7 linked regions of the Homo sapiens genome follow. The protein of the gene in region 3 purifies or fractionates together with the protein of the main gene of each other region. This does not show direct contact. Each region holds a gene or a part of one and is shown on either strand. Other genes may lie near its edges.

What was found.
Region 1: the proteins of ENG (region 3) and GTF2H2 purify together in Homo sapiens (affinity purification with mass spectrometry; one large-scale study listed by BioGRID and IntAct). This does not show direct contact.
Region 2: the proteins of ENG (region 3) and ZNF185 purify together in Homo sapiens (affinity purification with mass spectrometry; one large-scale study listed by BioGRID and IntAct). This does not show direct contact.
Region 4: the proteins of ENG (region 3) and EEFSEC purify together in Homo sapiens (affinity purification with mass spectrometry; one large-scale study listed by BioGRID and IntAct). This does not show direct contact.
Region 5: the proteins of ENG (region 3) and ARF4 purify together in Homo sapiens (affinity purification with mass spectrometry; one large-scale study listed by BioGRID and IntAct). This does not show direct contact.
Region 6: the proteins of ENG (region 3) and CALD1 purify together in Homo sapiens (affinity purification with mass spectrometry; one large-scale study listed by BioGRID and IntAct). This does not show direct contact.
Region 7: the proteins of ENG (region 3) and CCDC12 purify together in Homo sapiens (affinity purification with mass spectrometry; one large-scale study listed by BioGRID and IntAct). This does not show direct contact.

Annotation. Positions count from the first base shown.
Region 1 is NC_000005.10:71,036,677-71,040,176, forward strand, and holds part of GTF2H2 (general transcription factor IIH subunit 2), read right to left. Parts: intron 1,806-3,500; coding exon of another isoform or gene 1,754-1,805; exon of another isoform or gene 1,753-1,753; intron 871-1,752; coding exon 831-870; intron 1-830. UniProt on the Homo sapiens protein: Component of the general transcription and DNA repair factor IIH (TFIIH) core complex, which is involved in general and transcription-coupled nucleotide excision repair (NER) of damaged DNA and, when complexed to CAK, in RNA transcription by RNA polymerase II.
Region 2 is NC_000023.11:152,896,785-152,900,866, forward strand, and holds the start of ZNF185 (zinc finger protein 185), read left to right. Parts: upstream 1-1,282; 5' UTR 1,283-1,454; intron 1,455-4,082. UniProt on the Homo sapiens protein: May be involved in the regulation of cellular proliferation and/or differentiation.
Region 3 is NC_000009.12:127,841,159-127,844,658, forward strand, and holds part of ENG (endoglin isoform 1 precursor), read right to left. Parts: intron 2,088-3,500; coding exon 1,936-2,087; intron 1-1,935. UniProt on the Homo sapiens protein: Vascular endothelium glycoprotein that plays an important role in the regulation of angiogenesis. Required for normal structure and integrity of adult vasculature. Regulates the migration of vascular endothelial cells.
Region 4 is NC_000003.12:128,338,481-128,341,980, reverse strand, and holds part of EEFSEC (selenocysteine-specific elongation factor), read right to left. Parts: intron 996-3,500; coding exon of another isoform or gene 843-995; intron 749-842; coding exon 92-748; intron 1-91. UniProt on the Homo sapiens protein: Translation factor required for the incorporation of the rare amino acid selenocysteine encoded by UGA codons. Replaces the eRF1-eRF3-GTP ternary complex for the insertion of selenocysteine directed by the UGA codon.
Region 5 is NC_000003.12:57,583,845-57,587,344, forward strand, and holds part of ARF4 (ADP-ribosylation factor 4), read right to left. Parts: intron 621-3,500; coding exon 540-620; intron 164-539; coding exon 54-163; intron 1-53.
Region 6 is NC_000007.14:134,947,134-134,950,633, reverse strand, and holds part of CALD1 (caldesmon), read right to left. Parts: intron 3,127-3,500; coding exon 2,865-3,126; intron 261-2,864; coding exon 120-260; intron 1-119. UniProt on the Homo sapiens protein: Actin- and myosin-binding protein implicated in the regulation of actomyosin interactions in smooth muscle and nonmuscle cells (could act as a bridge between myosin and actin filaments).
Region 7 is NC_000003.12:46,921,230-46,924,745, forward strand, and holds the end of CCDC12 (coiled-coil domain-containing protein 12), read right to left. Parts: intron 2,440-3,516; coding exon 2,378-2,439; intron 2,135-2,377; coding exon 2,100-2,134; intron 1,084-2,099; coding exon 1,007-1,083; intron 911-1,006; coding exon 828-910; 3' UTR 501-827; downstream 1-500.

The sequences.
Region 1 (3,500 bases), on a different chromosome or scaffold from region 3:
ACTTGGGAGGCAGAGGTTGCAGTGAGCCAAGATTGCATCACTGCACTACAACCTGGGTGACAGAGCAAGAGTCTGTCTCAGAAAATAAAACCAAAAAACTGTCAAATGATTCAAAAAGTGGTTCCAGTTAAGAGTAAACTACTGATGTCAAAGAGGTATATAAAACTTAATAAAATTACTTTATAAATTGTGACAGTGGAAGAGCAATACTTCTAATTATTATTTTATATAATATATATAGTTTTAAATATGAACATGTAACTAAATTAAAAATTAAAGCTAGACAGTGATCCATATTATTTACATCTATACAAATTTATTTATTAAAGTTGGCCCTCTTCAAAATTTAAAAAAGTATTTTCTCATTGGCATAATGGAAGAATCACCTATTATCTGTGGCCACCTTAAACAATTTCAATGTGTTATCACACAGCTTAAAGTATAATATGAAGAAAATATTTTAAATACTTTCAGACTAAATGCAGTTTAGCTTGAAAGCTAAAGACAAATTACATGTTTTACAAGGGTGTACCAAAGTAGACAAAACAATCAAAGAATTTAAAAAAAGAGGAAAAAAATTAAAAAATTTTTAATAAAAAGTTTTAAAAAGATGAATTACAAAATACTTTATAGCAAAAATTAGAATGCAGAATAACAAAACTACTATTTAAACTATTTTGTTCCTATTTTACCTTCACCTATTGTCATTATCTTTACAAGAAATAAACTGATATGAGCCTGGTCTTTAACAACCTGTTGAAAACTTATAGTACCATTGATTTCAATATTTCTTGTACATTACTTAATATTTAGAAAGCCAAAGAACTTACATGTTGGTCTTTCAATTCCCCCTGACATCCATAACAAAATCTGAAAAAAAAGTTTAACAATGTTTTTTCTTAGAATTTACTCATTAAAATAGTTCAACAAAATCTCACTAACTAGAATCCTTTAATTAATATGTACTTGTCTTTACACATGACTTTCAGGAAAAAGAGTTAAGAATACCAATAGGCCAGGCACAGTGGCTCACGCCTATAATCCCAGCACTTTGGGAGGCCGAGGCGGGTGGATCACCTCAGGTCAGGAGTTCGTGACCAGCCTGGCCAACATGGCGAAACCCCATCTCTACTAAAAATACAAAAATTAGCTGGGCATGATGGCAGGCGCCTATAATCCCAGCTACTCAGGAGGCTGACGCAGGAGAATCGCTTGAACCCAGGACACGGAGGTTGCAGTGAGCCGAGATGGTGTCATTGCACTCCACACTGAGCAACGGGAGCAAAACTCTGACTCACAAAAAAAAAAAAAAAAAAAAAAAAGAATAGCAATAATTAAAAAAAAAATTCCACAGTATATACAAGGTCATCTGACAGCCCAAAATTTAGTTTTTATTTTCATTAAGGTTAACTGTGAGCATGCTTTATTTTTCTTTGTTTTCGAGTCAGGGTCTTGCTTTGTCTCAAAGGCTGGAGTGCTGAGGTGCTATCACGGCTCACTGCAGCCTCAACCTCCTGGGCTCAAGTGATCCTCCTGCCTCAGCCTCCTGAGTAGCTGGGACTACAGGCATGTATCTCCATGCCTGGCTAATTTTTTATTGAGGCAGGGTCTCGCTATATTGCCCAGGCTGGTCTCGAATGCCTGGGCTCAAGCAATCCTCCTATCTTGGCTTCCCAACGTGTTAGGATTACAGGCATGAGCCACCATGCCCAGCCAGAAGCACTTTCTAACGTTTGTTTGATAGTCACTTACTCTAATAAGTGCTACTTTGTGATTCTTCACAGTTTTTGGCTATGAATCTCCAACTATGAAAGAAGAGAATTTAATTATCTTTCAATCATCTTGAACCCAGTAATGCATAAATATTTAACTAGTGTCATTCTCAATTCTTTCTACATAGTGAAGTCTTCCTTTTGGATAGAACAATAATCAATGTTTAGTTTACTATGCCTATAAAAATATTCTCAGCTAAGCCATAAGTTTTCCCCTATTTAAAACATTTTTTTTTTCCTGGAAATACTGTGTTGCTATTCCCAAGGTTAGTTTCCTATATAATTGACACTAATTCAGGCCCAATCTTCTCCGGAATAGTCTAACTGTCCTCTCGATATGTTCAAATACATCAGGAGTTCTGCAGTTTTCATCCCCTTGGTGATCTCTCTCCTGGAGCATCCTGACTGTCTCCAAACTGGACGGTTCCCCATATGTGACACACAGGTATCATTCTGGAATTTCTCCTTACCATCATCCTAGGCCGTTCTTCAGCCTGTTTTGAATTAGATACATATTACTAGATCCCATGTCATTCTCCTTCTCAGTTCCTTTGAATCACCTACCTCTTCCAGACCTTCCCCAGAAAAATCTCTTTTTGAGACCTTACAAGTCTGAAAATGTCTTTATTCTACCTACACTTAACTGATAGTTTGGCTGGGTATCTAAGTTGGTAACAATTTTCACCACAAACTTTGAAGGTGACTGCTCCCTCTCTGCATCCGGTGTTGCTAATGAGAAGCCAAACAATTTTAATTCCAGATCCTTTGTGTGTGACCTAGTTTTTCCTCTCTGGAAATGTTTAGGGTTAATGGTTTATTGTGTATTCTGAAATTTCACAATTATGGGGTCTGCCTTCCTTCAATACGTTAGGCACTTGGCAGTCCCTTTCTTTTATCTTCGTTGCAGAGATGAGGTCTTGCTGTGTGACCCAGGCTGGCCTGGAACTCCTGGCCTCCAGTGATCCCCCAGTCTCAGCCTCCCAAAGTGCAAGGATTAGAGCTATGAGCCACCCTTCCCAGCCAACAGGCCCTTTCAATCTAGAAAGTTCTGTCCTTCAATATAAAATTTCTTTGAACTATGTCTTTGATGATTTTCTATCCTACTTTTTTTCTTTTTTTCTCGTATCATTCTCATATTGGACCTTCTGGATAATTCCACCAGTGAATATTCTTATCTTTACTCTCCTATTTGAACCTCTTTATTTTACTCCTTTTATTGTACTTTCTGGAATATTTCTTCAACTCTATCTTCTATAGTACTGGGTTTTTCATTTTTACTACATTTAACCTCAACCATAAGCAAATAAATACCAAGCTAAAACAATGAGACTTTTTTCTTTTTCTTTTGCCTGTGAGTTTTGGCCAATATAAAAAAGTTTCATAATACCTAATGTTGGCTAAATGTGGGAAAACAATAAATGAAACTTCTTTGAAGAACAACTTTACAATATCTATCAAAATTCACAAAACATGTAAAACTCTTGACTCAGTAATTTTACCTCTAGGAATTTACCATGCATTTATACTTGTACAAATGTTCAAAAATATAGATATAAGCATTATTTGTTAATAGCAAAAAAAGAAAATCTTAAATATCCAACAGGAAGCAATTGATTATATAAACCATAATTATACCTGAAATATGCAACAATTTCAAAAACAACATTGATCTAGATATGGTGATATTGAATGACTTCTAAATGATTTAAGTGTGAAAAGCAAGATGGA
Region 2 (4,082 bases), on a different chromosome or scaffold from region 3:
TTTAGGGAGTCCGAGGAGCAGGAGCAAACACCCCAAGGTGAGCGCCATGTGATGTATTCAGAAGGCAATGGAAAAAGGCCAGTGTGGCTGTAATGTATTGAACAAAGGGAAGAGTGGCTGGACCTGCAGGGATAGGTCGTCTCAAGGAGTCTGGCTTTTACCCTGAGAGCAATGGGAAGCCATGGAGGAGTTGCAAGCAGGAGAGCACCTGATCATATTGACACACGTGAACTTTTAACCTGACCTCCGTGTAGAGACTGAGGGAAAGGAAGGCAAGACCAGAGGCAGGGGGACACCAGCAAGGAGGCTGGTCTTCGGGGCCAGGTCTGGACTAGGGTGGTGGCAGCAGGCACAGGGAGAAGTGGGTGGACTGGAGGGCCATGGAAACACCACATTGGCAGGCCTTGATGAAGGAGAAGCAGCTGGTCCATTCTTTTGAGCCTACCACCCTGGTAGGCCAACTCCTGGCCAAGTCCATGCCATTTCTTGGGCTGGCTTAATTGTCTCCCTGTTTGGGAGGCCGTGGGGTGAGGGGTCTTTCCTCCATGCTCTCTCCATCCTTAGCCCCAGCCCAGGGCCTTGCACACAATAAAGCACTCGGTGAGCACCAACGCGTGACACAGGTACATCAAACCGCATTGGCTCTGGGAGTCTGGCTGTATCTCGTCGCCCAGCCTGGGAGATAGCCCCGTTTGCTGTGCCTTGTGAGCCCCGGGTCCGTCCCAGGATGGCCTTCCACGATGAGCGGCTCCCTCACTCTTCTCCTCCTTTCCTGCCTGCAGGACTTCCTGGATGATCTCAGCCGCCAGCCCCCCGCCCCCCTCCCCGCCCCTGTCTGGGATCTCCATCTGTAAAATGGATCTAGGAACGGTAGTTCTCGACTGAATTAACCCGACAGCATCTGTGGAAGTCGTTGGCCCTGTGCCGGGGCCAGATCGCGCAACTAGGAGCGGGGGCCCTTCACGTGGCGGAGGCTTCCCGGCCTGGGGGCCACGGGCCCGGAGGAATTTGCCTGGAAGTTTTCCATCACGGCAGAGCCTTCTGGAGCTCGCCCCGTGCTCGACAAGGGGAGCCCCAGACTTGATTTCTCCAGCAGCCCCGCGGGGCGGGGCCGAGAAGGGGCGGGCGGGCGGAGGACGCTGGCGGGAGAATGTGCGGAATGTGCCAGGCGCCTCTACCTACCCCAGGAGGGGCAGAGGAAGGGGCCGGCCGAGGGGAGGGGCGAGGGGCGAGGCTCCGGGCGGCCGGAGAAAACCTGTTTGTTCTCCTGCGGGCGGAGCCCAGTCCGCGCCTCCTCGCCTCCCTGCGCGCTCCCCGCTGTGCACCGCGCCCCGCGCCCCGCGCCTGCCTCCCCGGCCCGGCCCGGCCCGGCCGGGCGCCGTCCACCCGAGGGAGCCCGCGCCCTGCGACTGCCCGACCCTCCACCCGCCCCACGAGCCGGGCACCGGTGCCAGGTAGGGCTGTCGAGTCGCCATTGGATGCGGCCCTGCTTGGAGGCAGTGGGGGGCACCCAGTCCGTGCCCAGCTGGGGACAAGTCAGGGCCTCAGTTTCCCCATCCATAACCCTTACCAGCTCCAAGCATCTCTCTTCGGGTTCCCCCCGGGAGTCAGTGGATTTCTGGTTTTCGCTGTGAGTGAAAAGACTGACAGGCAGAGGAGGCCAGCGTCCCCTACAGAGGCAAGTGTCCCCCTTGCCAGCCTGATCCCTCTGTCTTGCCCTTTAGGAAAGACACGGTTTAATTGTTAGTAAACGGCGAGGGGCCAGGATGCTCTGAGAGTTGACTGCAGGCCTTTAAGAATCAGGGAATCTCATATCCCTCCGTCCCCCTGTGCCCATTTTATAGATGAGGAAACTGAGACCCAGAGGCTGGCTCACCCAGAGGATCCCCTCAATCGCCCTGGGGCCTGTGAGGTGCATGTGCTGGGTACAGGGCAATCTTGGGGAGGGCCATGAGGATGGTGGCTGCTCACACTCAGACAGAAGGCGCCGAATCAGGTGTCACTGGGTGTTATCGACAGGATCGGCACTGCACCAGCTCTGTGGCTGGATTGTTTTGATGGGGGCAGAGGGAGCCAAGAGTCTGTCCTCTTTGGAAAGGCAGAGGGATACCTTGCCTTACAAAAAGGCCGAAAGCTCAGGTGCTCCTGCCTGATCTGCCACTTCTGAGCTGGGGACACCTGGGTACTCTGTCGGTTTAAGGGGGTGACACGTCAAGCTGCCTCCCACCCAGGGCTGCTGGGGACTCAGATAAAGTAGGTGGTGGGTGTGTCCCGGCTTTGGGACATCTGAGGCATGGTAGGAGTTGTGTTCTTGCTGAGCCGTCGGCACGAAGCCTTGGCATCATGGGAGGCCCCAAAGCTGTGAGCCCCGAGAGAGGGCCTCTCACACCCCATCCAGCAGTGCTTGAGGCTTCAGTACCTGGACTAAGTCCTGCCTTGGTCTCATGGCCCTTCAGACTTCTGGCTGTCGTACCTGGCTGGGGGCGGGAGGCAGGGGTGCACAGGTTGATAGGCCTGAACAGAGCTGCAGAGGTCCTGCCTTCCCAGGGCCTCCGCTCCTCATCTGAAAAACAAGGGGCAGCTCAGAGGCCAGCAAGTGGCCAAGACACAGATGCACAGATGAGGGGCCAGCCTTCTGGCAGGCCTTGGTGCCTCCGCTGTTCCCCTCATCGCTCCCAGGCCACTTCAGGATGGGAAGGAACAGATCCCTCTCACCTGCCCCTCCTTCCAGCAATTCCCAGCCCCTGGCTGGATGCTGTGCATTCAGCCGTGTGGAGCTGATGGAAGGCACTCAGTGCAGGGCCAGACACGCAGCAGGTGCTCAAGATCTGTTCATTTCCATCCTCTGGACACTCATGACTCAAGCAACAGAGGTGGCCCAGGACCACTTAGGATGTTGCAGCTCCGAGTAGCATGAAAACATTAGGGGTTCCTCAGTCCTGGAGCAGCGAGGCACCCCTGGCTGGGAAGATCAGGGAAGGCTTCCTGGAGGCGAAGGGCTTGGAAGCAGGAGGAGGAGCTCGGCAGCCACCAGGTCAAGGCCCGCACGTCCTTTGGAGCTGCTGGAGTCTAACCTCCCCGTTACTCCTGAAAGATCATAAACCACTTCTTGCTGAGCTCCTGCATATGGGGGCCCACAGAGAAATCAGCTCCATGCCTTGCCCTGAGGAGTGACAGAGAGGCCATCTGTCAGTAAGAAGTTGCCATCTGAATCCAAATGGCAGCAGTGCTTGTCCACCTCACTTCCTGCTCAGCTCAAGTCCAGACTCCAGAAAAAGCCTTTCCCACGTGAGGCCAGTGATGCCAGGGGCAGCCAGCGCCTCAGCTCAGCCTCCCTCAGCCTGACTTGTGCTCCTTGTCTTCCTGCCCAGTGTCCCCAAGGCCTCCTGAGATCTGGCAGGGCAGGGACTCTGGGTCCCTAGCACTGGGCCCAGGACCTGGCCACGATAGGCATCGGCACTTGTTCCCTGAACTGTCTTCAGTTGCATGCCAAGCAAACTCCCCCAATTCTGGCTCGGTGCATTCTGGAAGCCAGAAGCCTGCCTTCCTCCTTCCCTACTCAAGCTTCCACAGGTGACTGCCCCCTTTGGTGCGGGTTTTGCTTCAAGCCACAACTTATAAGGTGCCAGGTCACATGTAACACAAGCTTTCCTTCTGTTGCTGAGCCCTGAGGCTGCCCCCACTGCCAGTCCCTGGCGGCATGGGACAGGACCAGTGCCAGAGAGGAGAGCTGCTCTCCAGTGCGGCAACCCCTTGCAGTCCGGGCCTTTGGGCTCTCATGTTTAGGGTCAGTCCAGGGACTTTGCATTCGTTACCACTGTGCCCATAGTGAACCGGCTGATGCCAAGACAAGGGCAGTGCCATCAGGGGACCAGTCCCTGAGAGATGCTCAGGAGAGGTTGCCATCATTGCTTCCAAAGGCCGGGAAGAGGAGGAGGGGCTGAACTGTCCCACACCTGGTCAGGTGTGTGGCAGGTGAGGGTGGCACCTTCATAGCCTAGTGGTTAAGAGAATGGCTCAGAGGTCAGCCTGGGTTCAAACCCCAGCTCAGCCACCATCCAGTTGTGCAAAGTTCGGCCCTT
Region 3 (3,500 bases):
AGTCTCCTTAGCTTCCAAGATCAGATGAGGTCGGATGTGTTCAGGATGGTGTGGCCGTAACAAGCCATGCCTAATCCCGTAGCAGCTGGAGTGCCCTGGCCCTGTGCCCCGTGAGAATGCACCAGTCCCCTGGATCCTGGCTGGCTATCTACACACCTATCTCCCATAGACCTAGACACCTGCCTAGGGGCCCTCCTCTCACCCTGGCCCAGTATTGAGCAATTAGGGTTGGGGGATCCCAGTCACCCAGAGGAGGCACAGGGACCTGAACATTAAAACAAACAATGCGAACTAACAGAGGCAGTCGTATTTTGAATATCATTACCAAATTTGAAAAAAAAAAATGACAATGCCTATGGAAACCACACAAAGTGTGTTTGGCACTATCTATGATTTGGAAATTATCAAAGCCCACAGTCCTCGTAGAGGGCAGGGCGGTGGGGAGCAGGGTCCCCCGATATTGGTGGTCTGAGCACTTTCTTATCACTGCACAAACGCAAGGCAACTTAACAGTTTTGGGGGCAGATTGGCCATAAGTTTACCCGGAGCTGACACGGCGAAGTCAGTATCGGGACCAAAGGCCACATCAACCAGGTGTAATCTCCAGTCCAACAGGCCAGAAGCCACCTGAACACTGAGATCCACGTGGGGAACCAAGTGGCAGGCTGGCTCTGGCATCCCCAGGGATCTGGTGTGAACTCTGGCCCTGGGCACGTCACTCCATCGCTCTCAGCCAGCCTCAGTTTCCTTCTCCAAGAAGTGGGGATAATAACAGACCCTGGCAGATGAGCCTTGGGAGGCTTAATACATGTGAGATGCTTAATTCCTGGCATAGAGTCGGCCCTAGCACAGTCTCTAGCACATAGCGCTTAACAAAGGTGTTGTTATTATTCAGGACAGACGTATCAGACAAACTGATGGTGGGCTGGGAGTGGGGGTCTCCTGGGGAGAATCGTCTCCAGGCCGGCAGCAGCCTTTGGATCTCTGAGGGTCACAGATATTCAGCAGGGGACATTCCAGGGAGAAAGATCTGGGCTCAACTGAAAAGCACTTCTCTTTTTCTTTTCTTTTTTTTTTTTTTTTTTTGAGACAGGGTCTCACTCTGTCACCCAGGCTGGAGTGCAGTGGTGCAATGTTGGCTCACTGCAACCTCCACCTCCTGGGTTCAAGCGATTCTCCTGCCTCAGCCTCCCAAGTACAGCTGGGATTACAGGCATGCGCCACTATGCCTAGCTAATTTTTGTATTTTTATTTTATTTTTATTTTTTTATTTTTTATTTTTTTGAGACAGAGTCTCACTCTGTCACCAGGCCAGAGTGCAGTGGCACAATCTCAAGCTCACTGCAACCTCCAACTCACTGGTTCAAGCAATTCTCCTGCCTCAGCCTCCCAAGTAGCTGGGATTACAGGCGCTCACCACCACGCCCAACTAATTTTTGTATTTTTAGTAGAGATGGGGTTTCACCATGTTGGCCAGAATGGTCTCGATCTCCTGACCTCGTGATCTACCCGCCTCGGCCTCCTAAAGTGCTGGAATTACAGGCGTGAGCCACTGTGGCTGGCCCAAGAAGCACTTTTCAAAGTCCAAGCTCCCTAGAGAGGAGCTGCATTCTTCTGAGATTCTGTGAGGTCTCCATCATTGGAGGTGCATAAGCAACACTCACCTGGTCCCCCCCACCCATCTGGCTCTTCTCTACTCAGCTCTTCCCACCTGAGTCTTCTGGTGGCACCCAAAAGACTGCCCTGATCCAGACCCTGCCCCTAGAAATGCCACCTCTTATGGGCCCTGTGAGATGCCCACATCACTCTCTTGGCAGGGGGCCTAACGAGGACTCAGCCACTGCCCCAGGGACAGCCACAAGGAAGGCACCCCTCACCCCATCTGCCTTGGAGCTTCCTCTGAGCCCCCACCCGACCCTGCCATGGGACACTCACCGTTGGGAACTCCAGGAAGAGGACATGGACTTCAAGGATGGCATTGGGGGCCTGAGCCACGCAGCCCTTCGAGACCTGGCTAGTGGTATATGTCACCTCGCCCCTCTCGGGGCCCACAGGCTGAAGGTCACAATGGACTGTTTCTGCAAGACCTGTTGGAGAAACATCCGGAAAGAGGCCAGGTGAGAATAAGGTGATGACAATGACTCCTACTTTCCAAACGTCTCCTAGGGACTTGACATGAGCTAACGGCTTTCCTGCATCATCACAGCCACCTTATGAGGTGGATATCATTATATTCGTTCCATGGATTAAAAAAAACCAAGGCTAGGAGAGGAAACGTCTCCTGCCCAAGGTCACAGCGCTACTACGTATAGGGTCGATGAATAGAAGGACACCCAGCTAAATTTAAATTTCAGATAAACAATGAGTGCATTTTTTTAAGTATTAGTATATTGCAAATATTGCATGGAACGTACTTATACTAAATTTTCATTGTTTATCTGAAATTCGGATTTCACTGGGCCCCATGTATATATGTGTGTGTGTATATATACATACACACACATATACATAGATCTACATATATACATACATATATACATATATAGATATACATATATACACCCACACATCCACATACATATATATATATATATATATTTTTTTTTTTTTTTTTTTTTTTTTTTTTTTTTGAGATGGAGTTTTGCTCTTCTTGCCCAGGCTGGAGTGCAATGGTGTGATCTTGGCTCACCGCAACCTCCGCCTCCTGGGTTCAAATGATTCTCCTGCCTCAGCCTCCCAAGTAGCTGGGATTATAGGCATGCACCACCACACCCAGCTAATTTTGTATTTTTAGTAGCGATGGGGTTTCTCCATGTTGCTCAGGTTGGTCTCGAACTCCTGGCCTCAGGTGATCTGCCCACTTCGGCCTCCCAAAGTGCTGGGATTACAGGCGTGAGCCACCGTGCCCGGCCAGCCTCCTATATTTTTATTTTTTATTTATTTTTAAAAATTATTTTTTATTATTTATTTTATTTTATTTTTTTGAGACGGAGTTTTGCTCTTGTTGCCCAGGCTGGAGTGCAACAGTGTGATCTCGACTTACTGCAACCTCTGCCTCCTGGGTTCAAGTGATTCTCCTGCCTCAGCCTCCCGAGCAGCTAGGATTACAGGCATGCACCACCATGCCTGGCTAATTTTTTGTATTTTTAGTAAAGATGGGGCTTCTCCATGTTGGTCAGGCTCGTCTTGAACTCCCAACCTCAGGTGATCCGCCTGCCTTGGCCTCCCAAAGTGCTAGGATTACAGGCATGAGCCACTGCGCCTGGCCTATTTTTTATTTTTTTGAGACAGACTCTGCTCTGTTGCTCAGGCTGGAGTGCAGTGGCAAAATCATAGCTCACTGCAGCCTCAGCCTCAACCTCCCAGGCTCAAGTGATCCTCCCACCTCGGCCTCCTGAGTAGCTGGAACTATAGGCATGCACCACCACATCCAGCTAATTTTTGCATTTTTATAGAGATGAGGTTTCACCATGTTGCTCAAGCTGGTATTGAACTCCTGG
Region 4 (3,500 bases), on a different chromosome or scaffold from region 3:
TTTCTGGCTCTCATCACAGATGTCAGGCCATGGATCCCAGCTGCCCGAGCAAGAAGGGAAGGGGTGTGGGGCCAGGCAAGGGCATGCTCACCCGCTCCACAAGGCCATGCTTGTGCTTCAGCTTGTACACCTTCAGCCTGGGCAGGAAGCTGTCGGCGTAGTTCCTGTCCTCTAGCCCGTGGAGCAGGATGCCATGGAAGGCTAGCCGGCACGTGTTGGTGTGAATGTCCGCATCTAGCCTGGAGCCAATCACCAGGCACAGCCGAGGGCAGGTGACGGGCTTCTCAAACTCCACCAGGGCCCACTGCTGCCGAGGACAATGGCCCTCTGTGGCCTGGCCGGCCTTCTTGTCGGCCTCATCATTGTCTGTCACTGCTGGTGTCAAATCCTTGGACAGGTACTGCTCCTGGAAAAGGTATTCTTGAGAGAAGTTGAAAGAGTCCAGTATAGGCTCCTGGTCAAAGTTATCTGGAGCAGGACTGAAGAACATCAACCGGCCCATGACTGTTTCATGGCCCACTGTAATGTGGAACTTGGCCTTGGTTTGCAGGGGCCCCCGGAAATACGGTATCTTTTCCACAGAGATGAGGGCCGCATGGACAGTGTGCAGGGACTCGGGGGCACACACCAACCCGCGCTCCAGCAGCTTAGGGTCAAACTGGGTGACGCAGATGCCCAGCCGGTCTCCTTGCATGGCTGAAGTGATGGGCATGTGGAACATCTGCATGGACTTCACCTTCTTCACCACCTGATGGGGAGTAAGCAAGAGAGCACATGAAACCAACAAGCCTCGGGGCTGTGGGGAGGAGAGGGGAGCTGCAGCTAGAGAATCCTGTGCTTACCACCACCTGCAGGCACCGTGAGGACCAGCCAAGGGGGGTCTGGGGCCCAGGCACACTCTTCTGGACCAGAGCAGGTACCACACTGAAAGCACAAGGCCGAGGGCCGCCAGCAAAGCAGGGCCAGGGCCCCACTCTCCAAGTCTCACTGTTCTTCTGGGGGAAAGGCAGGGGTCATAGCAGCCAAATCCCTGACTACCTTAGTTCCCTTCACCCCTGCTCCAATCCAGGCTCCAGTCCCTCCAAGTTCCTCCCTTCCATCAATCATGCTAGCATTTTCCAGCCCTCTGTCCAGGTTTGCCTGCCTCCTCCCCCAAGAATGGCCTCCCCAGCTGCTCAGCTGGCCAAGCTGTGCCCATTTGCCCTCTAAAGCCCGGGACAAACACCACTGCTCTGGAAAGCCTGTCCCAACTCCCAGTGGCAGAACTTGACCCTGACTCCTTAGTGGTAACCCAGCCCCTCTGAATCCCACAGCCTGCTGCATGGTCACTGTCTATTGTGTATCTGCTGCCTGCTGGCTTGTGGGTAGCCTAGGGCAGGATCTCTCTTCATTCATTCAACACATATTCCCAGAGTGCCTATTGTGTGCCAGGCACTGTTCTAGGGGAAGAAATACAGTGACCTCTGTTTCCAAAGAGCTTAATATCTTGAAACAACAGCAACAACAAAATTACCTATATAGGAAAAATTATATATATTAATTCAATTCATATCAATATAAAATTAATATATAAATTACATGCATGCAAATATATATTAATATAATTATATAATATTAATCTACATTAATATTATATGACTATATTAGACAACATATGCTATAAAGAAAACAAGGCCAGGTGATGTGATAGAGAAGGCCTGGGTGGGGTAAAGGTCTCGAAGAAGTGAATTTGAGCTAAGACCTTAGCATAAGAAGCAGACAGCTGTGTGAAGACCCACAGAAAGACAGCTCTAAATGGGGCAACTGATAAGTGCAAGCCCTAAGAGGGCAGTAGCTTGGTGAGTCTGGGAATACACCGAGGCAGGAGGGCTACAGCAAGGGTGGGGAGGGAGACAGCAGGGAGGGAGGCTGATATGGTTTGGCTGTGTCCCCATCCAAATCTCATCTTGAATTGTAGCTTCCTTAATTCCCATGTGTTGTGGGAGGGACCTGGTGGGAGATAATTGAATTGTAGGGGTGCTTTCCCCCATACTGGTAGTGAATGAGTCTCACTAGATCTGATTGTTTTATAAGGGGAAACCCCTTTAACTTGGCTCTCATTCTCTCTCTTGCCTGGTGCCATGTAAGACGTGCCTTTCGCCTTCCACCATGATTGTGAAGCCTCCTCAGCCACGCAGAACTGTGAGTCCATTAAACCTCTTTTTTTTAAAAAATAAATTACCCAGTCTTGGGTATGTCTTTATCAGCAGCGTGAAAACGGACTAACACAGAGGTCAAGGCTCGGGCCCCACAGTAGAGTGCAAGGCCCGGAAGTCACTGGAGGAGTTTAGGCAAAGGAGTAACCTGATCTTATCTCTGTTTCTAAAATATCACTGACTACTATACTGGGCAGATTTCTGCATTCACAGTTTGTAAATCAGGAACAGACATAGAAAAGTCTCCAATAAAAGTTCCTGAAATGAACAAACATTCCTACCTATGATCCACTGTCTCTGAGATGAGAGGAAACTGTTCATGGATTTGAAGCAGAGAAATATGTAACATATTTCAGAAGACCTGCCATCAAAAATAGTTAAACTAAAGAGAATTTTGACACTTAGGTTGCAAGCATCCCTGTCTACCGAGTCAGGGTGTACGAACACTCATTTTCTCCCTGGATAAAGGGAGAGTGTGTTGCTAATGGCCCATGAGCCCAGGACCTTTCCTGGAGAGCCATAATACTCAAGTGTTTGTTTAAAGATCATTAACTACCTAACCAGAGGTCAGGGGGCAGAGAAAGTGAGACGCACAGTGTCAAAAGCCACAGCCAAGATCAATCACAAAGAAACAGAAAACATCTCTGAAATGGTCTGAAAAGGCAATAGGAGAATGAGATTTTTGGGAACATTACTCAGAGTCACTGGAGAATATCACCTTACACTAAGCGTCGTCTGCCCAGTGAGGTGGGGCCCAGGTCACAACTCTTCCCTCCCAGGCGCCTGCAGCAGCCTGTGCGGCTTTCTAAAATGTTTCTCTGATAAAGCAATTGTTTGTCACCACCTCCTTTGTGGGCTCCCATCGTCTACCTCATGGCTTTCAAAGCTTGTCATGGTCCTGCCACGAGCAGGAAGATCCTCTGGTCAGCTGGAATTCTATGGGGACTCCCTGTGATGGGTGGCGGTCTCCTGGTACCCCCTCCACCGCCCCACAAGGCAATCTGCTGAAAAGCCTCACTCACAGGGCTGAGCCCCCACTCCTTAGCTCAGCCACCAGGAAGCCTCCACCATGCAGCCCAACTCCACAGCCTTTTCGGCCCCACATTCTCCCCAACCCTGAAAACGTAGCCAAGGGACTCTTGAATGAATCCTTGTAAATGCTGTGCTTCTGAATGTCTCTGTGCTTTGCCCCTGAGGCTGCTCCCTGGGATTTCTTCCACTGGCAAATTCCCATTCGTCCCTAACCCCTGCTCCCATGGACCTCCTAGAAGGGCTTCTCTGATAACTCCAGACACAGCTGACCAT
Region 5 (3,500 bases), on a different chromosome or scaffold from region 3:
TTAGAGCATGAAACCCACAAAGAAAAGTTATAAAAACATACAGTATCCCTTACCTGGGTATTCTGGAAGTAATGCTTCCAGAGAGGCCTAATTCTATCTTGACCACCAACATCCCATACTGTGAAACAAATGTTCTTATATTCTACTGTTTCCACATTAAAACCTACAAAGAAAAACAAAAATGACCGCTGTGCAGCGTCATTAAGAAAATAAAACCTTTTATTGTGGAATTTTCTTAGAATAGTGTTTTTAAAGTACTTCTTTTTATTTTTAAAAAATATATTTAAGCCTAAACATCAACAGAGACAAGGCCTCATTATGTTATGCAGGCTGGTCTTGAACTCCTGGGCTCAAGCAATCCACCCGCCTCGGCCTCCCAAAGTGCTGGGATTACAGGCATGAGCCACCACACCCGGCCTGTTTTAAAAGTACTTCTAAGATAATCAACATGCTTAACAAAAAGACAATCTCAAAACTAGACTGTATATATTTCACTTTACAACATATCATGATATAAAGTCATCTGTAAACTTTCTTACCAATGGTAGGAATGGTGGTGACTATCTCCCCTAACTTCAGTTTATACAGAATGGTTGTCTTGCCAGCAGCATCCAATCCAACTAGAAGAAGACATTATAGATTTAAAATCCAGACCAAAAGCACACTCCAAGAAATAATTTTACAATAAATTTATAGTTCAAAACTAGAAGTTGACTGTTCAAGACAACTTCTAAATGAGTTAGAAATGAAATGACCTTATTTCTGATTCCCAAAGGCAACACTTCCTACAGAAAGCCTTTCCATTCTGCTTTCTAGACCAAGAGAGACAGCATGTACTAGTAAAAGGTAACAAGTATGTAGCTGACTTAGGCTCTAATCTCTAGCTTTGCGACAAACTAGTTGAGTGACTTTAGGACACTGAGACCAGAGAAATTAGCCATAAATAAAGGGACTGGATCAGATCATCTAAGATCTCTTCCAATTAAATTCTATGAACTACCAGCATTTTTTGGGGGGTGGAGGGGCAGGGGAGCGGGGGGACGTATTCTCGCTCTGTTGTCCAGGCGGGAGTGAAGTGGCATGATCTCAGCTCACTGTAACCTCCACCTCCCGGGTTCGAGCAATTCTCCTGCCTCAGCCTCCCAAGTAGCTGGGACTACAGGCGCCCACCACCACGCCCGGCTAATTTTTGTATTTTTAGTAGAGACGGGGTTTCACCATGTTGGCCAGGCTGGTCTCAAACTCCTGGCCTCAAGTGATCTGCCAGCCTGGGCCTGCCAATGTGCTGGGATTACAAGCGTGAGCCACCGTGCCCAGCCATACTACCATTTTTAAAAACACAAATTAGAAGTTGATTCAGACAACATGTAAGTGAATAAAGAATTCTTAAGATTTGTAAAAATATTTTCTCTTATTTACAGAGTAAAATTTGGGTAACAGATTTTGATGCTAAGGGGTAAAAAATACACTGGTATAAGTATGTCCTAGTGGTATAACTATGTTCTAATGAACTTAATGTAACTATGTCCTAGTGACCTTATAATGATAATAAAGGAAGATGAAGCCAATTTTACCCCTGCTTAAATCCATTTCAACATTAAATGTGCCAAAATGAAAACCAAAGTCTGATTAACCTGTTATAAAAATGGCCCTATCACATTACCTAATGTAAACAACGAGTTAATGGGTGCAGCACACCAACATGGCACATGTATACATATGTAACAAACCTGCACATTGTGCACATGTACCCTAGAACTTAAAGTATAATAATAAAAGACCCTATCACATTCATCTACAATATAAGTAATATCTAAATTCTTTTTTTTTTTTTTTGAGACAGAGTATCACTCTGTCACCCAGGCTGAAGTGCAATGGTGCAATATCAGCTCACTGCAACCTCCATCTCCCAGGTTCAAGCGATTCTCCTACCTCAGCTTCCGGAGTAACTGGGATTACAGGTGCGTGCCACCACACCCCAGCTAATTTGTATTTTTAGTAGAGACGGGGTTTCACCATGTTGGCCAGGCTGGTCTTGAACTCCTGACCTCGGGTGATCTGCCCGCCTCAGCCTCTCAAAGTGCTGTGATTACAGATGTGAACCACTGTGTCCGGCCTAAATTCTTAAAATGATTCAGTTGAGGCAGAAGTACAAGTAGGGAGGAATGTGTTTGCTTGTGAAAAAAAATCCACACTAGAACAAGAGGCTATACCTCCTTGTAGGGTGACAGTGAAGAACAAATTAAATGCTTGTAAGTATGAATCTCTCAAAACCTGAATATTCTGCAGTGTTTGCTAAAGCCCTCATAAATGAAAGATCAACATCTAATAACCTCATTGAATCTATCATTGTTCTTAGGATATCATATCTGGCCGCCTGGGTTTATCTTATCACAGATTTTTGTATCGATTCAATCAAGTATTGATTTAAGCAAGGACACTTTCTTAATATTTAAATCAAAGCATGACTTAGCACATAAAAGCAATGCTAGTAAGTTAAAAAAGAGCTGAAATTATCTCACTTATCTAATTTACATTCCTATGCAAGTAAGTCTATCTTTTATCAGTTAGTCCAAAACAGAAGCGAAGGCTACAGGCAATTCTGATTCCTTCTACCCTCTTAACAACCCTTTCTACTCTGTACCCTACCAAGAATAACTTTAAGTTCTTTTTGGAGACTCAAGCCTTTTATTCCTTTGTCCTGTAAAACCCTGTTCCCCACTTCGTACTCGGATACAGGTTTATTCCTTCCCAACTACTAGTCAGTGTGATCAGCCCACATCAAGCCCTCATTCATGAGCATAATAATAAAAACCAACTGTTATACAAGTGTTTTATTTTTTGAGCATGGAACATTATCAAAAAAATCAGAAAACATAATTCTAAAAAATACATAAAAAGGAGCTACATTAAAGTTTGGCATCTTTAGTAACAAGATATAAAACAAAGGGGGGTGGCAAAAAACAACTGGATCTTTAAATGGTCCAACAAAGCTGTCTCTTGAAAGCATCAGATTTTTAAGTTAACCAAAATTAACCTTTAAGTTCAAATATGATTAAGCCAAGTCAGAATTGAAACTGAGACGCTGATTAAGAAACACACACACACACGCACACACACAAAACTATGGTACCTGCCAGTTATCACCGGAGGTCCAACTGGACCTCAGATTGTCATTTAAAAACAAGGTAAGGCCTGGCGCTGTGGCTCATGCCTGTAATCACAGTACTTTGGGAGGCTGAGGTGGGCGAATCACCTGAGGCCAGGAGTTTGAGACCAGCCTGGCCAACATGGTAAAATCCCGTCTCTACTAAAAATACAGAAACTAGCTGGATGTGGTGGCATATGCCTATAATCCCAGATACTCTGGAGGCTGAGGCAGGAGACTCGCTTGAACCCAGGAGGCGGATGTTGCAGTGAGCCGAGATCGTGCCATTGCACTACAGCCTGGACAACAAGAGCGGAACTCAGTCTCAAAAAAAAAAAAAAAAAAAAAAAGT
Region 6 (3,500 bases), on a different chromosome or scaffold from region 3:
ACTTGGAAGGATAGCAAAAAGATAAATGAACAAAGGCCCTGTATAATCAATAACTAAACAAGGGGCTAAAATCCAGTCTCTATCATATTCTAATAGAAGTTTTCTGGGGAAAAAAATACCTTGAGAGATGAACCTTTAGGAGTGAAACACTTGAATGGTTTCTTGTCATCTGACAAGCCATCTTCTGGCATCTTCTGGCGTTTCTCAGCAGCTTCTGCTCTTCGCCTTTCAATCTCTTCCTTTAGCCTCCTCTTCTCTTCCTAAGAGAGAAAGAACAAATAACGAGGCATCAGTACCAGCTTCACAGCCAAAGGGAAGAGTGCTGTAGGAGAGAGAGCACAGTTGGAGAGGCAGCAGACTCAGGCCGCAGGCTGGACACTCCCCTTCTAGGTGGTCACCAGAGGTTTAGCCTGAGAGCTGGAGTCGAGCTGCCTGCATTTGCATTCTGGTGCTGCTACTTTCCAACTGCCTGACCTTGGCCATGTTATTTATCTGCTCTGTGGCTCAGTTTCTTCATCTGTAAAACAGGGATAACAATAGTACTCATTTTTTAGGGCTTTCGTGAGGGCTCAGTGAGATAGCACATGTAAAATGCTTACACCAAACTTGTCCAACCCATGGCCCAGGGGCCACATCATGCCCAGGATGGCTTTGAATGTAGCCTAACACAAATTCGTAAACTTTCTTAAAACATTATGAGACCTTTTTGTGATTTTTTTTTTTTTTGGCTCATCAGCGATCATTAGTGTTAGTGTATTTTATGTGTGGCCCAAGGCAATTCTTCTTCCAATGTGACCCAGGGAAGCCAAAAGATTGGACACCCCTGGCTTAGACTAACACTCATTATGATGATTTCCCATAGGATGATACATAATCACCACCATCCTGTGGGTCATTAACAATGACCTCACACTTCTGTATATGTAAAAGGGATATGAATATTCCTTCTACCTACATCCTAGGAGAGTTGTGAAGACAAATGAATAACTTATGTGAAAAGCTATCTAAATCTGTGGTACTATATTTGCCAGATGGTACAAGAGGTGATTTTATGGTTGCTCCCCGCTTCAAGTGAATATATAATTTTAGATGGTTTGACAAACCTGAAATGCTCTAGACGTTGAACCATGGTAGTGCAATTGCAAATGTTTACAGACTGTCTCATTAACCCCTCTGTGTCTTCATTCCTAGTCTAGAATACTCTGTCTTCTCTATCAGGGCTCTGATCAAGTTGCACAACTTGATTTTCTGAGAGATTTAATGCAGTCTTTGGTAGTTCTTAAGCTGTGAGATCATTATCACTGCATGTTCTCAAGCAGAGACTAGATGTTCATCTGTCAGAGGATGTCACAGAAGGATCCTGTGTTTGGTAGTTTAGCCCAAATAATCTCCTAGGTCCAATCCAGTTCTAAGACTTCGTGATTTCTCTTCAGCCTTTCCTGATACTCTCCTCCTCTGAATAATAATCATAATAACAATGATGGCAATAATGATACCTACTAATTTTTGAGTGCCTAGAATGTGCCAGGCACTGGGAGCACAATGATCTATTAAATTATTGGAAGAATCCTGCAAAGTAGATATTATTTCACAGATAAGGAAAAGAAGACACAGAGTAGTCCAGTTTTCCCAAGGCCCCAGCTTGTTAGTGACAGAGTTAGGATAGAAGACTGGGTGTGTTCCGAGATTGCACCACTGCATTCCTGCACTCCAGCCTGGGTGACAGAGCAAGACTATGTCTAAAAAAACAATAAAAAAAAAAAAGCCTGGGGTGTGTTTAACCCCCAAACTCTATCATCCTGATTACTTCCCATACTTCCCAACCAAAGGTCATTGGCTCATTGAAAGTTGGAGTTAAAAGAGACCTCAAAATAATGTATCCAAATTTTCCATACAGTTCAGGAAAATTTTGCATAGGATCCTTGTCAAAATGCCATTGAAAGTCTTTTTTTTTCTTCATATTTTGAATGATGGGAGATCGCTATCTCAAAAGCTCTGGGCTCTGAGTTGGAAAAGCGGGGTCTCCTTACTGATTCTACCATTTATTAGTCAAGAATCTTCAAATAAGTCACTCAAACTATTTGATTCCTGGTTTCTTTGCCCATAAAATGAGAACGATGTACCTCAGGATGAAATGAAAGAATGCACTTTGTAAACTGTAGTACTGTAAGTTGTAGTTGGTTAAACATTATTTCATATGCTGAGCCAAAATGTTCCTCCTTGTAACTCTATCTGCTGTTTTTAGCTCTGTCTTAAAAGATGAAACAAATCCATCTGTTTATAATGATGGGGCTCTTCCTGCATGTCAGGCACGGTATGGGGTCCTGGGTATACAGTAATGAACAACGCAGATACTGTCCCTGCCTCTTTATATTCTAATGTACTTACTTGCTCATTAAAAAAAAAAAAAGATTTAAAAAAATCTTCTCTATAAAAACTCTCCAACTATTAGAAAACCATAACTTCATTCTGGTAACTAATTTGCAGACCTTTCATCCTTTTCAGCTTTCTAACTTTTCCTTTTTGAGAGGCAGTAAAGGGTTTTAATGATGGGGCTCCTCCTGCATGTCAGGCAGACTCAAGGGAGACCTTGGGAAAGTTACAAACAAAAACAAAAACAAAAACAAAACCTCTCTGTGCCTCAGTTTTCTCATCTGTAAAATGGGGATTAGTACCTAGGTCAGCGAGTTCTTAGAAGCAGTGGACAAATTAATACATCTACAAGTTATAAAACAGTACCTAGCACATGGTAAGTTTATTATTCTTAAAAAAATATTTTTGAGAGCCCATGCTCAAAAGAACAGCCGCACGGCACTAGGGAATTTTCCCGGGCAACGTTCTCAGTGGGCTAGCGCCCGCCTTACCTCCTCTCTGAGTTTTCGATCGGCTTCCTCCTGCTTCCTCCTCTGCTCTTCCTCCTCCAGGACCTTCCTTCTCTCCTCCCTCTTTTTCTTGAGTTCCTCCAGCTCCAAAGCCGCCTCCTGCTGCTTCTGTTTGAGCTTCTCGAACTCTTCGCTCTCGGTCTCCCCGCGACGACGACGAAGCTCCTCCAGCCTTTTGCCGGCTTCCACCTGGGGGGCGCCCTCAGCCTCCTTGGTGTCCACGCTGGCCCTCCCTCCAGGGCGGCTGTGGTTGGGGGGCAATGGAAAGGGGTTTACATGCTTTTGCCTGTAGTCTCCCTGGAGGAAGGGGAGGTCGGTCTGCGGCTTCTGCATCCCCGACTAAATACCCACTGCCTCTCATTAGCCCAGGGGGTAGGCTGGGGAAGGGGTCTGCCCGGAATCACAGAGTCCAGGAGCCTCTGCTCTTCCACTTGTGCTTCGTTTCCTCAGCTGTAAAATGGGACAAATATGCACTGTAAAATGGGATTGTAAAGTTGTGCAGCTGCTATGGAAACAGTATGGAGGTTCCTCAAAAAATCAACAAGAGAACTACCACGTGATCCAGCAATCCCACTTCTGATACACTTCTAAAAGAATGGAAAGCAAGGTCTTGAAGAG
Region 7 (3,516 bases), on a different chromosome or scaffold from region 3:
CTCCCATGCAGGGTCTCTGTCCTAGGGGAGCCACAGTCTAGCTCTGACTGGTGGAGTAGGGAGAGAGGCCGCCTGGGGCTGGGGAGAGTGGGGAAAGCAGTGCCAGCGGCATCAAATCTGGAGTGGCCCTGAGTTGGGGCTTGCCAAGGCCCAGTCTCTCTCACACTGAGGATCCCCAGAGGACCAGGGTGGGAGCCTCTCCAGCTACTCCATAGACTACTACAAGGCCTAGGTCTGGGGGAGGTCTTAAAAGGACTTTCTCAGACCCTGTCTCTATCACCCAAGGATCTTGAGATGACCAGCACTGACCATGGACTGGGCCAGGACTTGGCCGCAGAAGGCAGCCCTGAGTGTTTCCCACCCCTCCGGCCTCAACATGCCCAGCCCAACACAGGGGTTATTCATACATATTAAGTACCAGCTCTGCAGTCACCCTGTCTCCATCCTGTGGAGCCCAAATCCACTGCACCCTCAGACCTAGGAAATATCTGACACATTTCTGCCACACACAGGGGTTTACTTGTTTCTATTTCCAGATTTTTTTTTAGAAAGTTCAAAATATATACATATATACAGACATATGTACATCCACATGTGCAGACACAGGCACGCCCAGAGTTGTTGCTGGTTCTGCCTCCATTCAGAATGGCAGGGGCCACCCAGCAGACAAGGAGCTGACCTCATCCATGGGGGTTTCAGACTTGATGGGCAGGGAGTCTCTGCTCAGAAGCCAAACTGGAGGTGATGGCAAGCCTAGCCCCCATCCCTGCCCAAGACCATCCTCTGCAGGACAGGCCTGATGGGCGAGTGGTGGGGCAGGGCATGCCTCAGTCGGAGTCACAGGTCTTTTGTTCGGTGGCAGCATCCACTGCAGAGGCTAGGCTGTCTTCCTGGCCTTTCAGCCTTTCACCTGGGATGGATGGCAGACAGAAGGGGTGGGGAGGGGCCCGGTGCTTGGGCCACCACCCAGTGGGCAGGACCCCACCTTCCCAGGCACTGCACTTACGGATCAGCTCGGCAATGGCCCTCTGAGTCCGCTTTTTTAGTTTCTCCAGCTTCTTGGCCACATCTCTCTTGAGGTCCCTGGAGCAGGGAGGCAGGGAGAAGCAGGAAGGTGAAGGCTGGCCTGATGTGGCATTGGGTCCCCTCCCCTCTTGCAGCCCTCTGGCATTAGGAGTCATGCTCGGTTGCTGGAGGGGGCTGCCCTGGGGAAGAGGCCAGGACATTCCCCTTCTGTACCCTCCGAAACCCAGCATAAACCATCATTCCCTGTCCCACTGAGGCAGGGGGACTAGCATCACAAACCCACCCAACACAAGGGACTGAGCTAAGGCAAAGGTGGATGGTTTCTCAGAGACCCTCTCTTGCTCTGGTCCTCTGGTCACCATCAGGGAGTGACTTGCTCCTGCCCACTGTGGGCCCTGCTCCTCCTCCAGCCACCGGCCCAGCCCCTCCACTGTGGGCACCCAGAAGTGCACAAGCACTCAGCCCATTCTCTCTGGCTCTGGGTTTCCCAGGACATATGCCCCATGCTTTTGTTTCATCAAATTAAAACAGCTGGTGTTAACTCGACCAAGAATCAGGCGAGAGGGATATAGCTCTACCTCCGGCTCAAGGTGAAGACAGACACAAGCCTCCCGGCCCACAGCACCCTCTCTCCCACTCTCTCTCAGCCTAGCAAGAAGGATGACGACCTCCATTTCACAGAGGAGGAAACCAGGGCCAGAGGGAACAAGCTATGGTGGTAGAACAGGAACAGAAAACTGTGTCTGCCCTTCCCTCCACTCCTGGCCCCCAAAGACAGCGGTTGGCCTTGCTCAAATGGGAGCTCTGGAGCAGATGGGCTCTCAACCTCTCAGGAGGGCCTTCATGAGGGGCCTGCTGCTCCCCGCGCCTGAGCCCCACTCCATCACTCCCCTCTCATCCCACCACTTATGTCCTCCTCAGCACTGGTTTCCAACAGTAGCTATCTCGTGTAACTCTATGTCTGTACTGCCAGTCTCTGCACTGTGACGGCAGGAAGGGCCAAGCCCCAGGCCCATGCTGGCACCAAGAGTCCCCGAGTCAGCCTGCACCCGCCACGCACGGGCAACACTCACCAGTCAGGCTTCCGAGGAGCGAGGTTGGCCAGGTCCTGGGAAGGGAGGAGACACACATCAGGGTGGAGGGGCCACCCCAGGACAAGGGGGAGGGCAGGCTCGAGAAGGAGGGAAATGGGAGAAAGAGGAGGAGGAAGGAGAGGGACGAGAGCAAAGGGGCTGGTGGGAAGGGAATAAAGAAGTGACGAGAAGGAATGGGGGGCAGAGGGAGAGCAAGTGGCGAAGAGAAACAGGACACACAGAAGCAGCGAGGATGCCAGGGTGGTCCAGGCACTCACCACCTCCTCGATGACGGGCTCGGGCTTGGCGGCCTCCAGCTGCTCCTTCACCTTCTCCTCCACTAGAGGGTGCAATTAAACAGAGAAGGCCTGTGGAAAACGCGCTGCCACTCTGCAGGGACACTGCCTACCGTGGCCCCCAGGGAGAGACGGGACCCCAGGCTTCCTTGCTCCCACCTCTGTGTGGCCCGCAACCAGCCAGAGGTGAAGACCCTGCAAAGGCAGCTCTGGAGGAGGGGCCTGGGTTTCCCAGGATGAAGCATTCCCCACAGGCCAAGAATGGGACAGCAGGAGGCAGCCAGCCACAGTCAGTCAGGAAGCATGGATGCTGACAATAACTACAAGACCAGAGAGCTGCCTGGATACATACAAAGTGAGGACTGGCTTCTCACATAATCCCAGGGCTCCTGGGCTCTGAGGATGTCCTCTGGGTCCCGGCCTAGCCAGAGCCACAGGTGGCTTTTCCTCCATCCCACCTCAGGTGTATGCTCCCAAGACCAGGGCACAGGCACCTCCCAGCTCCTCCAAGCTACTGCCAGCATAGTGGGCCTCTGAGCAATCTGACTAGGAGGGTCCTGCCCCTTGGGGACAAATGGCAGAAGCACTAACAACTCTGGGCTCTGTGGGCTTCCTCCAACCCCTGGCATTCAGTGGGCCCATGAGTGCCCTCCTGCTCTGCCTCACCTCCCTCCAGATACAGATGAGAGTTGAGGGCTTCCCCTGACCTGGGCAGTTCCTCACCTCTCTGTCCTGCCTACTATCCCCCAGTGCACCATTACCCTACCAGGTGGGGCCCAAACTACAAAGCAAATCACGGGGAAGTGTCTGGATTTCAGGGATGAAGGAAGTGGGGAAGCAGACCGGGATGTGGCCAAATGGGCAACACTTTACTTTTTCCCAAGATAAATGTATTTATTCACTTGTTACTTATGCAATTCAAAAAAAGTTGATAACAAGGCAAGGCACAGTGGCTCACACCTGGAATCCCAGCACTTTGGGACGCCAAGGCGGGTGGATCACTTGAGGTCAGGAGGAGTTCAAGACCAGCCTGGCCGACATGGTGAAACCCTGTCTCTACTAAAAACACAAAAATTAGCCAGGCGCAGTGGCACACACCTGTAATCCCAGCTACTCAGGAG